2 separate regions of the Homo sapiens genome follow, and region 2 is linked to region 1. Evidence: fine-mapped expression QTL. Tissue or cell type: whole blood. Region 1 holds a variant in brackets; the other region holds the start of a gene. All regions are shown on one strand. Distances are from middle to middle. Region 1 overlaps COTL1 (coactosin like F-actin binding protein 1). Region 2 holds the start of COTL1 (coactosin like F-actin binding protein 1).

What was found. PIP is the estimated chance that this variant, and not a neighbour inherited with it, causes the effect.
Region 2: it holds the start of COTL1, and the variant in region 1 is fine-mapped to the expression of COTL1 in whole blood (TOPMed, PIP above 0.99).

What each region holds. Positions count from the first base shown.
Region 1 is chr16:84,563,076-84,568,588 of GRCh38, forward strand. COTL1 (coactosin like F-actin binding protein 1) reads right to left here. Exons shown (of 4, transcript NM_021149.5): 4 at 2,521-3,880. The coding sequence ends at 3,770. Among named protein-coding and RNA genes, the nearest start is that of COTL1, 52 kb to the right of the region's middle. The variant T/C (reference allele first, on the strand shown) is at 3,340.
Region 2 is chr16:84,615,728-84,620,727 of GRCh38, forward strand. COTL1 (coactosin like F-actin binding protein 1) reads right to left here and starts at 2,351. Exons shown (of 4, transcript NM_021149.5): 1 at 2,111-2,351; 2 at 1,774-1,856. The coding sequence starts at 2,187. RefSeq lists silencers at 2,180-2,229, 2,250-2,609.

The DNA.
Region 1 (5,513 bases):
AAAAAAGGCAAGGTTTCTCTGCCTTCAGTGGTCTCATGATCCCTTGGGATCCCCAGCAAAGGCCCAAGCTGCAGTTTTCAAGTTAAAGCCAAGCTCCTTGACACACGAACAAGCTGCTTCAGACCCTGGCTCACCCGTGGGCAAACATTCCATGGAGCTTATGTCCACGCTTTCCTGTTCCTCCCCTCCTTTCCCCGCGTTCTCAGCTCAGGTACCACCTCCTTAGGGAAGCCCTCCCCCATACCCTAGCCAGATCCAGGGCCCTTGTGAGCTCTCATGGAACCTGGGCTTTTTTCTCTGAAGGAGACTTATCCTCATCTGGAAACACACACCCTCTGGTGGGACAAGCTGATTAATATCCATCATCCCTGCTAGACTCAGCCTCCTTGAGGGTGGGGGCTGTCTGAGTTTGTTCATCATCAAATCCCCATACCTAGGCCAGTGCCTGGCACATAGTAGGTGCTCAATAAACCTGTCTGCACTTGCCCTTCAAGATTCCAGTCATGGCTGGGTGCAGTGGCTCACGCCTGTAAGCCCTACACTCTGAGAGGTTGAGGTGGGAGGATCGCTCAAGTCCAGGAGTTTGAGACCAGCCTGGGCAGCATAGGGAGACCTCCTATCTAAAAAAATACAAAACTTAGCTGGGCATGGTGGTGCACACCTGTAGTCCCAGCTACTCAGGAGGCTGAGGCAGAAGGATCGATTGAGCCCAGGAGATGGAGACTGCAGTGAGCTGTGATTGTGCCGCTGCACTCCAGCCTGGGTGGCAGAGTGAGACCCTGTCTCAAAACTAACAAAATGAAAACAAACAAGATTCCACTCACGAGAGGAACCCACAGAGGGAGAGGCAGGCCTCCCTTCCAGCCCCTCCTGCCCGGGATCAGGGCCACTTCTGCAGCTGTCTGGAAAGGAAAAGCTGGCGTTCGTTGAGTCTGGCACTCCAATTTCACTCACTAGTCTGGGATAGAGGCCTCATCTGTATTTTCAAAGCTCCCAGTGATCCTAATTCACAGCCAGGGATGAGACCACAGGCCTAGGGGCAGATTTGAGAGCTGCTCATTCTTTCTAGTCTGCTTTGGGGCAGGGAGTGGGGTGGGCAGTGGGCCTGGAGGAGGGCTTGGCCGACCAGGAGATTCCAGGAGAGGATGGAAGGCTTGCGGGACGCAGTGCATGAGTGACATGAAGTCATGCACCTACTGAGCCCATGTTCTGAACGGAGCTAAAACCCGTGCACTGGGAACGGACCTAGTTTAGCTCCCTCAGCTCTGGGTATAGGAAAAGACGGAAGCCCACAGAGCTAACAAGACCAGTGGCAGGCGTGAGATAAGAACACTGCACCCTGACAGGCGCCCTTTGCCTGCACAATCCTCGCTGCTCCTTAAGCCTTTCTACACGTAGGCAATGTTGTCTATTTTGCAGATGAGGAAACCGAGGCTGAGAGGTTAACTAAATTGCCTAAATCCACACAGCTGTGAACAGATGAGCAGAAATTAGAACCCAGACGTGGCTGGGGCGGGCTGGGGCTGGGGAGGGTGGTGACCTATGGCCCCCTGCCACCCTGGGCAGCATGATCAGGGCCTTGCCCATACCTTGTAGGATTCCTTCCTGCCCTGATTTCGGCTTCTGCCCTCTCTCCGCACTCTCCCTGCCCCACACTCAGCTCCTCCAAGCCCCGCTGTCTGTGTCTGAAACTCCTCTGCCCTGATTCTGGGCTCCCACAGGGTCTGGTGTGCTGGAAGTCCAGTTTCTCAGCTGTAGGATAACCTCAGAAAGGATGTCATGGCCAACGAGGAAGATGCTTTCTCTTGGCTTTTCCTAAACAGGCAGACAGGGGAGTTCTGGCCACTCAAAAAGAATCACTACCTGTGGTCCCATCGCTATCCCAAATGTGTGGCCTCCCCGCTCCCCTCACAAGCCACAGCACCAGGGACTTTGAGAGATCTCAGTTCAAATCCCAGCTCTGGCCGGGTGTGGTGGCTCACGCCTGTAATCCCAGCACTTTGGGAGGCCAAGACGGGCAGATCACCTGAGGTCAGGAGCTCGAGACCAGCCTGGCCAACATGGCGAAACTCCATCTCTACTAAAAATACAATAATTAGCCAGGCATGGTGACGGGTACCTGTAATCCCAGCTACTATGGAGGCTGAAGCAGGAGAATCTCTTGAATCTGGGAGATGGAGGTTGCAGTGAGCTGAGATCTCCCCACTGCACTCCAGCCTGGGCCACAGAGTGAGACTCTGTCACCAAAAAAAAAAAAAAAAAAAATCCCAGCTCTGCCACTTTCTATCTGGGTGACCTCGGGTGAATGAATCCCTCTGAGCCTCAGATTTCAGGAAATGGGGACAAAAGCAGCACCTGTTTCTTATGGTTGCTAAGAATTAAATAAGCAATTGAATGTGAATGTGCCCCGCCTCAGCAGCTCCGCAAACACCTATTAAATCTGAAGGCGATGATGACTGCCTCTGTTATTACAGCAAAAAAAAAAAAAGAACTTTGTAGGACAAATCAGAAACCAAACTGTTTTCTGAAAAACAAAAAAAACATTTATTTCTGTAAACTGTCTGAGTGCAGAGATGTTCTTTACAATCCCAATACAGTACAGATTTCTTCCCCAAAACGAAATGAGCAAGGAAAAACAGAAAAAGAGCTATATCAAATGTGCTCATGAAGAACCAAGCCAATCTCACCTTTCTTTAAAAACAAAACAAAACGATCCTTTTGAATGTGTGGTGCAGACGCAGGACTGAAGCCACAGGCTTTTGGGGTGCTGTGAGCCCAGGGCTTTGCTCAGCTCACAGCTAGCGCGGCGGGCAGAGCAACCCTTCGGCCCAAGCCATCCTCGCAGCTTACACAGAAGCTTCCTGAACCTAAGGGATCCGTTCCCAGCTCTCCTTAAATTCCCAGTCCCCACCCTGGGCCTCTCTCCCTAACGATCTTGTCGCTTTGGGAGCCCCTGAAGTGAACCCTGAAATACTCCCTCCGTCAACTCTGGGCTCAGACCTTTGCCCTTCTCTGTGTCACAAGGAAATTTCGGTCAAGAGGGTGGGAACAGGTGGTTTCAGACCGTGCAGCAAAGCCACTGCCAGGTAAGTTTTAAGGCAAATTTTATCTCTTCTTATTCAGTCTGAGCCGGACCTAACCTTCTCACCACCGAGCAATCCTGCCTATGCTGGACATGCATCTTAGGCAACTCCGGATGGAGGTGGGATGAGGGAGCCCGGGGCAGATACCAGGAGGTCTGGGCCTTAGTAGGGAATGGACGTGTGTGCTTATGAAGGCTGCAGGCACCGGGCACAGCTCCTGGCCCAGCTGCCCCTCAGTGGTACACAGGAAGCAGGG[T/C]CCAGGAAAACTGAGATGGCAAAATAGGCCCGGGCTCTGGAAAGCAACGTGAGGTCATGCAGATCTCACTAGGCAGACCTCGTCGCGTGGAAGAGAAATGCCAGGAAAAGGGGTCACTGCAGGAGGCACCTCGGATCTGATGGCAGGCAGGACCTTGCATCAAAATGACTTTTCTTTAGAACAAAAAAGAGGGGGAGAAAAGAAAAAGAAGATCAAAGAAAGAGGTTCCATGAGCGTCATGAGATAGGACACGGCAGGGTTCTAAGGGAAGCGGGAAGGTGGGGGCTGTGGACACAGGGTGGCGGGCGCTGCCTCTCATGGCTTCTTTTCTCCCTGGTGGGCTGGTGGGCTAGTAGCTGAGGCCGGCGGTCCTCTCCCCCGGGGAGCAGGCAGATGACTTTGGCAAGGGGTGGTGTGGCGGGGGCTGGGGTTACTCCGTCTGGGCGTCGTAATTGGCTCCCCCCGCCTTCTTCAGCTCGCTCTTGATGAAATCTTCCTCCAGCTCCTTCCGATCACTGATCACAAACTCCTTAGCGAAATTCTGCAAGAACAAAGGAAAACACAGCGTTCCTATTAAGAAGGAAGGCACAGGATGTGAGGGTGGCTCAGGCAACACACTGGGAAGCAAAGCACTGAAAACCCTGATGAGAGATGGAAATGGAAATTCAGCAGCAGAGTCAGTCAATGGAAATTCAGCAGCAGAGTCAATGGAAATTGAACAGCAGAGTCATCTGGCAGAAAAAACCTGACTGGGAGGAGGGAGTGGGGCAGATCTGATGCTGCGTCTTCCCATGTCCGTGGGGATGGCCCGAGGAAGCTGGGGCTTGAATTTGGGCTGTTACCTTGGCCAAGTCCCTTCAATTCTCTGTGCCTCAACTTTCTCATCTGTAAAAAACTATCTCGTCAGGAAAATAATAGGTTACGAGGTTGGAAAGGCTCACGGGTGTGCAGGCACTCCAAAAAAAAGAAAAGGACAAAAGCTCAGATTGGTGTCTTTTGCCCATATCCATGATGTAAATAGTCCCCCAGTGGCTGACGTCAAGCTATCAAAGTGATGTCACCATACGTGGAGGTGGAAGGAGACAGGCGTAATTGGCTCTCGCCAGCTGGGACAAGCAAGCTTCAGCCACCAATGTTCCTAATGACGCAGGAGCCTCCAGTCCTGGGTCTGCCATGGGCTCTCCACCCGCACTGAGTTACACGAGGGTAGAGGCTCTGCCTTCTTTCAACAAATACCACGCCAGGCTGTGGGGCTACAGGGCTCAGCAAAATGGATGCAGTCAGTCTTTCCTCTTGCAGTACACAGGTTTCACCCATAGAACCCGCAGGCACCCATGATGCACTCAGTAAACGCTTGTGGCATGAATGAGGGAACCAGGTGACCTGGCTTATCAGACACCCTTAAGCCATGATGATACACAGTTACTGCCATATGTGGATCATAAGACTTTAACAAACAAAATTTCAGAACGATGACGGACAGCTTGACAAAAAAAAGCTATCAAAACCACAAATAACACGTCTAAAGGTAAGAAAATCATCCACATTAAAAAAAAAAGCCCATAAGGAAATAACATAAACAATGACCACCATTTTTCTTTTTCTTGAGAGAAAAGCCTGTTGCCCAGGCTGGAGTGCAGTGGCGCAATCTTGGCTCACAGCAACCTCTGCCCCCAGGGTTCAAGCCATTCTCATGTCTCAGCCTCCCAAGTAGCTCGAACTACAGGCGTCTGCCACCACACCCAGCTATTTTTTGTATTTTTAGTAGAAGCAGGGTTTCGCCACATTGGCCAGGCTGGTCTCAAACTCCTGGCCTTAAGTGATCCGCCCAGCTTGGCCTCCCAAGGTGTTGGCACTACAGGCGTGAGCCACCACGCCCGGCTAACCACAATTATTAAGCACTTATGTGTACCAGCACAGTGCCACAGTACTGAGAATGACACACAGTAGTAAATATGAATCATGGAAGGTGGAAGCAACCCCTATGTCCATCAACAGAGGAGTGGATTATCAAAACACGGTCCGTCCACACAATGGAATATTCCTCAGCCACAGAGAGGAATGAAGCGCTGCCACACGCAACTACATGGATGAACCTCGGAAACAGGATGCTGAGTGAAAGAAGCCAGGCATGAAGACCATGTACTGTCAGCTGCCATTGGTATAAATGTCTA
Region 2 (5,000 bases), 52 kb after region 1:
GGTTCAAATCCTGCCCTGCCAACTCTCCACATCGTTGCAGTGCTTTATGCTGCGATTTTAGGCCAACTGTTTACAAAAGCAATGAATGAATGTCTACAGGCAGCGCTCAAGGAGTAATTTTAGTTTTGTGTGTGTGTGTGTGTGTGTGTGCGCGCACGCGGGTTCTCAGTATCACCCATCCTCTAGTAGTCACACCACAAATACCCTTTGAATTGAACTAAATGCAAAATATAATTTGATTATGGAAGCAGTTAAGGAAAGAAACACCCACATGATCCCTGGCACAATTTTGTACTTTTTATTTATTTCGCAAACAATCATGTAGCTTGTACAGGCACTGTTCTGAGCATTTTATACATACTGACTCACTTATCCTCGCAACAGCACTGTGAGAGTGCAGGTGAGGAAACCAAGACCCCCAGAGATTAAGGAACTCGTTCCAAACCACACAGCCAGGAAGCAGCCGTTCAGGGATTCGAACCCACACCGTCGGCCGGGCGCAGTGGCTCACGCCTGTAATCCCAGCACTTTGAGAGGCCAAGGTGGGCAGATCACCTAAGGTCAGAAGTTAGAGACCAGCCTGGCCAAAATGGTGAAAACCCCATCTCTACTAAAATTACAAAAAATTAGCCAGGCGTGGTCGTGGGCGCCTGTAATCCCAGCTACTCAGGAGGCTGAGGCAGGAGAATCTCTTGAACCCGGGAGACGGAGGTTGCAGTTAGCTGAGATTGTACCACTGCACTCCAGCCTGGGCAAAAGAGGAAGATTCTGTCTCAAAAATAAATAAATAAATAAATAAATAAATAAGTAACCCACACCGTCTGGCTCAGGGTCCACGCCGTAACCTCCGGGCTGTGCTGCCGTTGTCCGAAAGCTTGCTTCCAACTAAAGACCAGAGATGGGAGGGAGTCGCATTCTCCAATCTCTTTAAAAGGTCCCATTACCAACATCACAGAGCCTCTGCCACTACCGAAGGGTTTATGGCGATGCCTGCCACGTGGTCTTTCTTTTCATGGTTCACAAGCCACAGGGAAGTGCCTAAGGCACACAAATCTTAAGTATACAGTCTGATGATTTTTCACGCGGGTACACACCTGCATAACCCCCTCCCAGATCAACAAATGTCTACAGAGACATTTTCAGCTCCCAGCAGTCCGGGTGGTGTGCCCCTCCCCATCAGTGGCTATCTAGCCCCAAAAGCTAATCTCGATTCTGACATTCACACCATAGATTAGTTTCGCCTTGTCTAGGATTTCTAAATGGAATCATATGGTGTGTACTCTTTTGCATCTGATTCTACTCGTCAAATTAAAAATCACATAAAATCAGCACACGGGCAGACAATGATAGCGGGAGAAAGGAGGGCGCGGCTGAGTTTCTTTCCCTTCCAAGCAGCCCCCTAGCCTGTTCGTATTTGGGCTCAGTGACTGATCAAAGGGGACAGTGGGAAGAGCTGGATGGACACTGGAGTTTGGAAACACAGGAGTTGACCTTAGAAAACCAGTGGACCGCAGGGGGCAAAAGAGCTGCCCCGCCTGGAGAAGGCATTGTAGGATGGCGGAGGCAGGTGGGTCACTTCTGTTGCTTCGGATGTCCAGAGGGGAGAAGGTTTTATGAGGCCTTAAAACGCTCACACCGGGTTCCTCCCACGCCATGCGCCAGGGGCACCCCATGTGGCCACCGGTTCCTCCCGGGTTCGCTCTGGCCGGGGCTCCCCGGGTGCAGACAACCTCCCAACGACCGCGCATCCGCCCGGCAGGCGCGCCTCCCTACCTGTGCACTGCTGGATGAAGTGCTGGTACTCCGCTCCCTGCTCGCCGGGGACGATGGTGGAGCCGTCATATTTAAAAGTCACCCTTTGGGTTGGGAGAAGAAAAAAACACACACACACATCAGCGCTGGTGGCCGCGCGACGCGGCGCTTGCAGAGGACAATCTAACAGACGCGCTGGCCACGGAGAAGCCCGCGGGGGCCTGGCACGCCGTCCCGGAATAAGGCGAGGAAGACAGCGCGGGAGGCCCGAATCCGTCCCGCCTGGAGGCCGGCTCGGTGCACGAGGCCCCGCGCGAGCCCGGGGAGCGGGGCGTGGAGACGAATGAAAAGTTCCTACCAGATGACGGCCGAGCCGTCGTCGCGCACCAGGTTGTACGCCGCCCGGCAAGCCTCTTTGTCGATCTTGGTGGCCATCGCCGCGGAGCCGCAGCGGGACACTGTCCGGGGCGGCCGAGCGCGCCCCTGGCCGGCGGCGGGGATGGGAGCGCGGCGGGTACGCGCCGAGGGCGCACGGGCTGGCGGCGGTGGCGACGGCTACGCGGCGCCTGCAAGCTGCGAGCGCGGCGGCGGCTTCCACTGCGGACGGAGAGCGCGCGGGGACCCCAGGCCGTGGCCCGCCCCGCCCCCCCGCGCCCATTGGCCGCCCAGGCGGCGGCCCGCCTCTTCATTGGCCGTCGGGCTGCGGGGGCGGAGCGTCTTGATTCTCTGGCGGCCAATCCCAGACCGGAAGGCTTGCGCAACTCCGCGGTGGGGGCTGGAGTAGGGGCTTTGCCTCCTCCCTCTCACTCTCCCTCCTCCCTCCCGCTCTCTTCTCCCCCAACATCCCTCTTCTCTCTCCTTCTCCTTCTCACTTCCCCTCCTCCCCTCCCGACCCCTCCCTGGAAACTCCCACTACCCCAACCCCCTTTCCCACCCCGCCTTCCTCCTCTCCCTCCTCCTTCCTCTTCTTCCCCCACTGCTTGCTTCCCCCACTTCCCTGACCTCTTCCCCCTCCCTTCCCTCCCCCTCTTTCTCCCTTCCCCCTTTATTCTTCTTCCTCTCTCCTCCTCCCTCTTCTTGCCTATCCCAGCCCAAAACTTCTCCATCCTCCCTATTTCCTTCTCCCCAAGCTCTCCTCTTTCCTCCTCCTTGACCCCCTCCCCTGCTGCCCCCGGCTTCGCCTCCCTCTTCTCCACTTACCCTCCTGGCATCTCCTCCCTCCCTGTCCCCTACTCCCTCCTCCTATTCCCCCTCTCCCCCTTCCTCATTCTCCCCACCCCCCTGCCCCTGAGGCTGCAGGGCTGCAGAGCTCCACAGGGGACCTCCACGTGGATGATGTAATGCGTCAAACCCAAGGAGACAGGCTGGCCACTGTCCCTACCCCAGCGTTTGGTTCCATGGATTCTAGGTGGGGAGGAACTGGAAAGAATGAAGCATTTTAAATAGGAGGGGGTAGAAAGTGGACTGCTTCCAAAACGCTGGTGGGCTCGCGTTTACTCTGGATTCTGGTCATTTGCATTCCTATCTTAACCTCTCCCTTTGGGCTCCTCTGAAAGCACGAGCTGACTCATTCTGTCTTCCTCATTCCTTCACTGACTCATTCATTCATTCCCTCATCCAGCCATTCCACAGAGACCAGTTACAGCGTCCAGGTAGGTAAAAAGGCAGGATCCTGAAGACTGGGCTCTTGAATTGCATCCAGTACTGCCACTTTCCAACTGGGGGCCATTGGAAAGCCTCAAAACCTCTTTTAAATGACTCCTCAAATGGGAAAAATAGTATAACTGACATCACTGCTTTGTTTTAAGTGTAATTGAAATGATACTTGGAACAAATATACTAGACATTCGATAAAATGTCATCATTGTTGGTTATTAAGTGATAAAAACAAATCCTAAATAGAAACCCAAAAGGTCAGGGACAATGTCCAATTAATGTTAGAATTCTCAACAAGCAAAAAAACAAAAACGAGAAATTGAATGAATCAATCAATCAGTCAATCAATGGGTAGTTGAATGGGTGGGTGGACAGGAACACAGTTTCAGAAGAGTAGAGGCAGATGCTGTTATAAATAAGACAAAAAGAAATTCACATTTCATACCCCACAAAGCCATTCCTACCTTACTCCTTGACAAGGGTAATGGGACAATTGGCCATTAGAAAGAAGAACAAAGGTGGATCCTTTGATCAGGGAAAATTCCAAAAGGATCAAAAATTTAAACACAAATAAAGGAAATCAGACCAGTCGCAGTGGATCACTCCTGTAATCCCAGCATTTTGGGAGGCTGAAGTGGGAGGATCTCATAAGCTCAGGAGTTCGAGACCAGCCTGGATAACAGGGGGAAAGCCCATCTCTACTAAAAATACAAAAATTAGCCAGGCGTGGTGGCAGACGACTGTAATCCCAGCTACTTGGGAGGCTGAGGCAGGAGAATCGCTTGAACCCGGGGCGGGGGGCAGAGGTTGCAGTGAGCTGAGATCGCACCATTGCACTCGAGCTTGAGCGATAAAGCGAGACTCTGTCTCAAAAAAAGGAAATCACAAAAGTGCCAGAAGAAAATATGGGGAGCTTCCTTCTAACCATAAACCATGTTACCCAAATCCAAATCCAAAAGCCATTGAAAAGATGAATACATTCAAACACATAAAAAGTGATCCAGGAAAAAAAAAAAAAAACATACCATACCACCTCATGCAAAGTGTAAACATAAAAAGACAAAGCAGTAAAAAGTGTTTGCAACTCAAGTAAAGAATTAGTCTTGCTAAAATATAGAGAAGTCAAACTTAAAAAAAAGAAAATGAAAAGAACAATGGGCACAGAATATGACCAGACAGATTAAATGATCTTAAACATGCAAAAAGATGCTCAACCTCAACTCCTAGTAAGAGAAATGCAAATTAAAGCAAAATTGAGATACCTTTAAAAAATAAATAAATAAACTAGCAGTTTGGTAAAAATAAAAAACTTTGACAAGCCTACTTTGCTGGGGAGGCTGTGGAAGACCCAGGTCCTCTTGTACATTGCTGGTGGGAGTGTGAATTGACACAACCCCCATGGAGCCGCCGTAGAGGCCAGTTGGCAATGTCTAGCAAATTTACAAGTCTGTGTGCCCTTGATCAATCCATTTACCCTATAGGGTCAGTGGTGCCCAGCCATGGCTGGACATGGGAATCACCAGGGTCCCCTGATCCCACACCCAGACATTCTGATATAATTGGTCTGAGATATGCCCTGGGTATGGAGATTT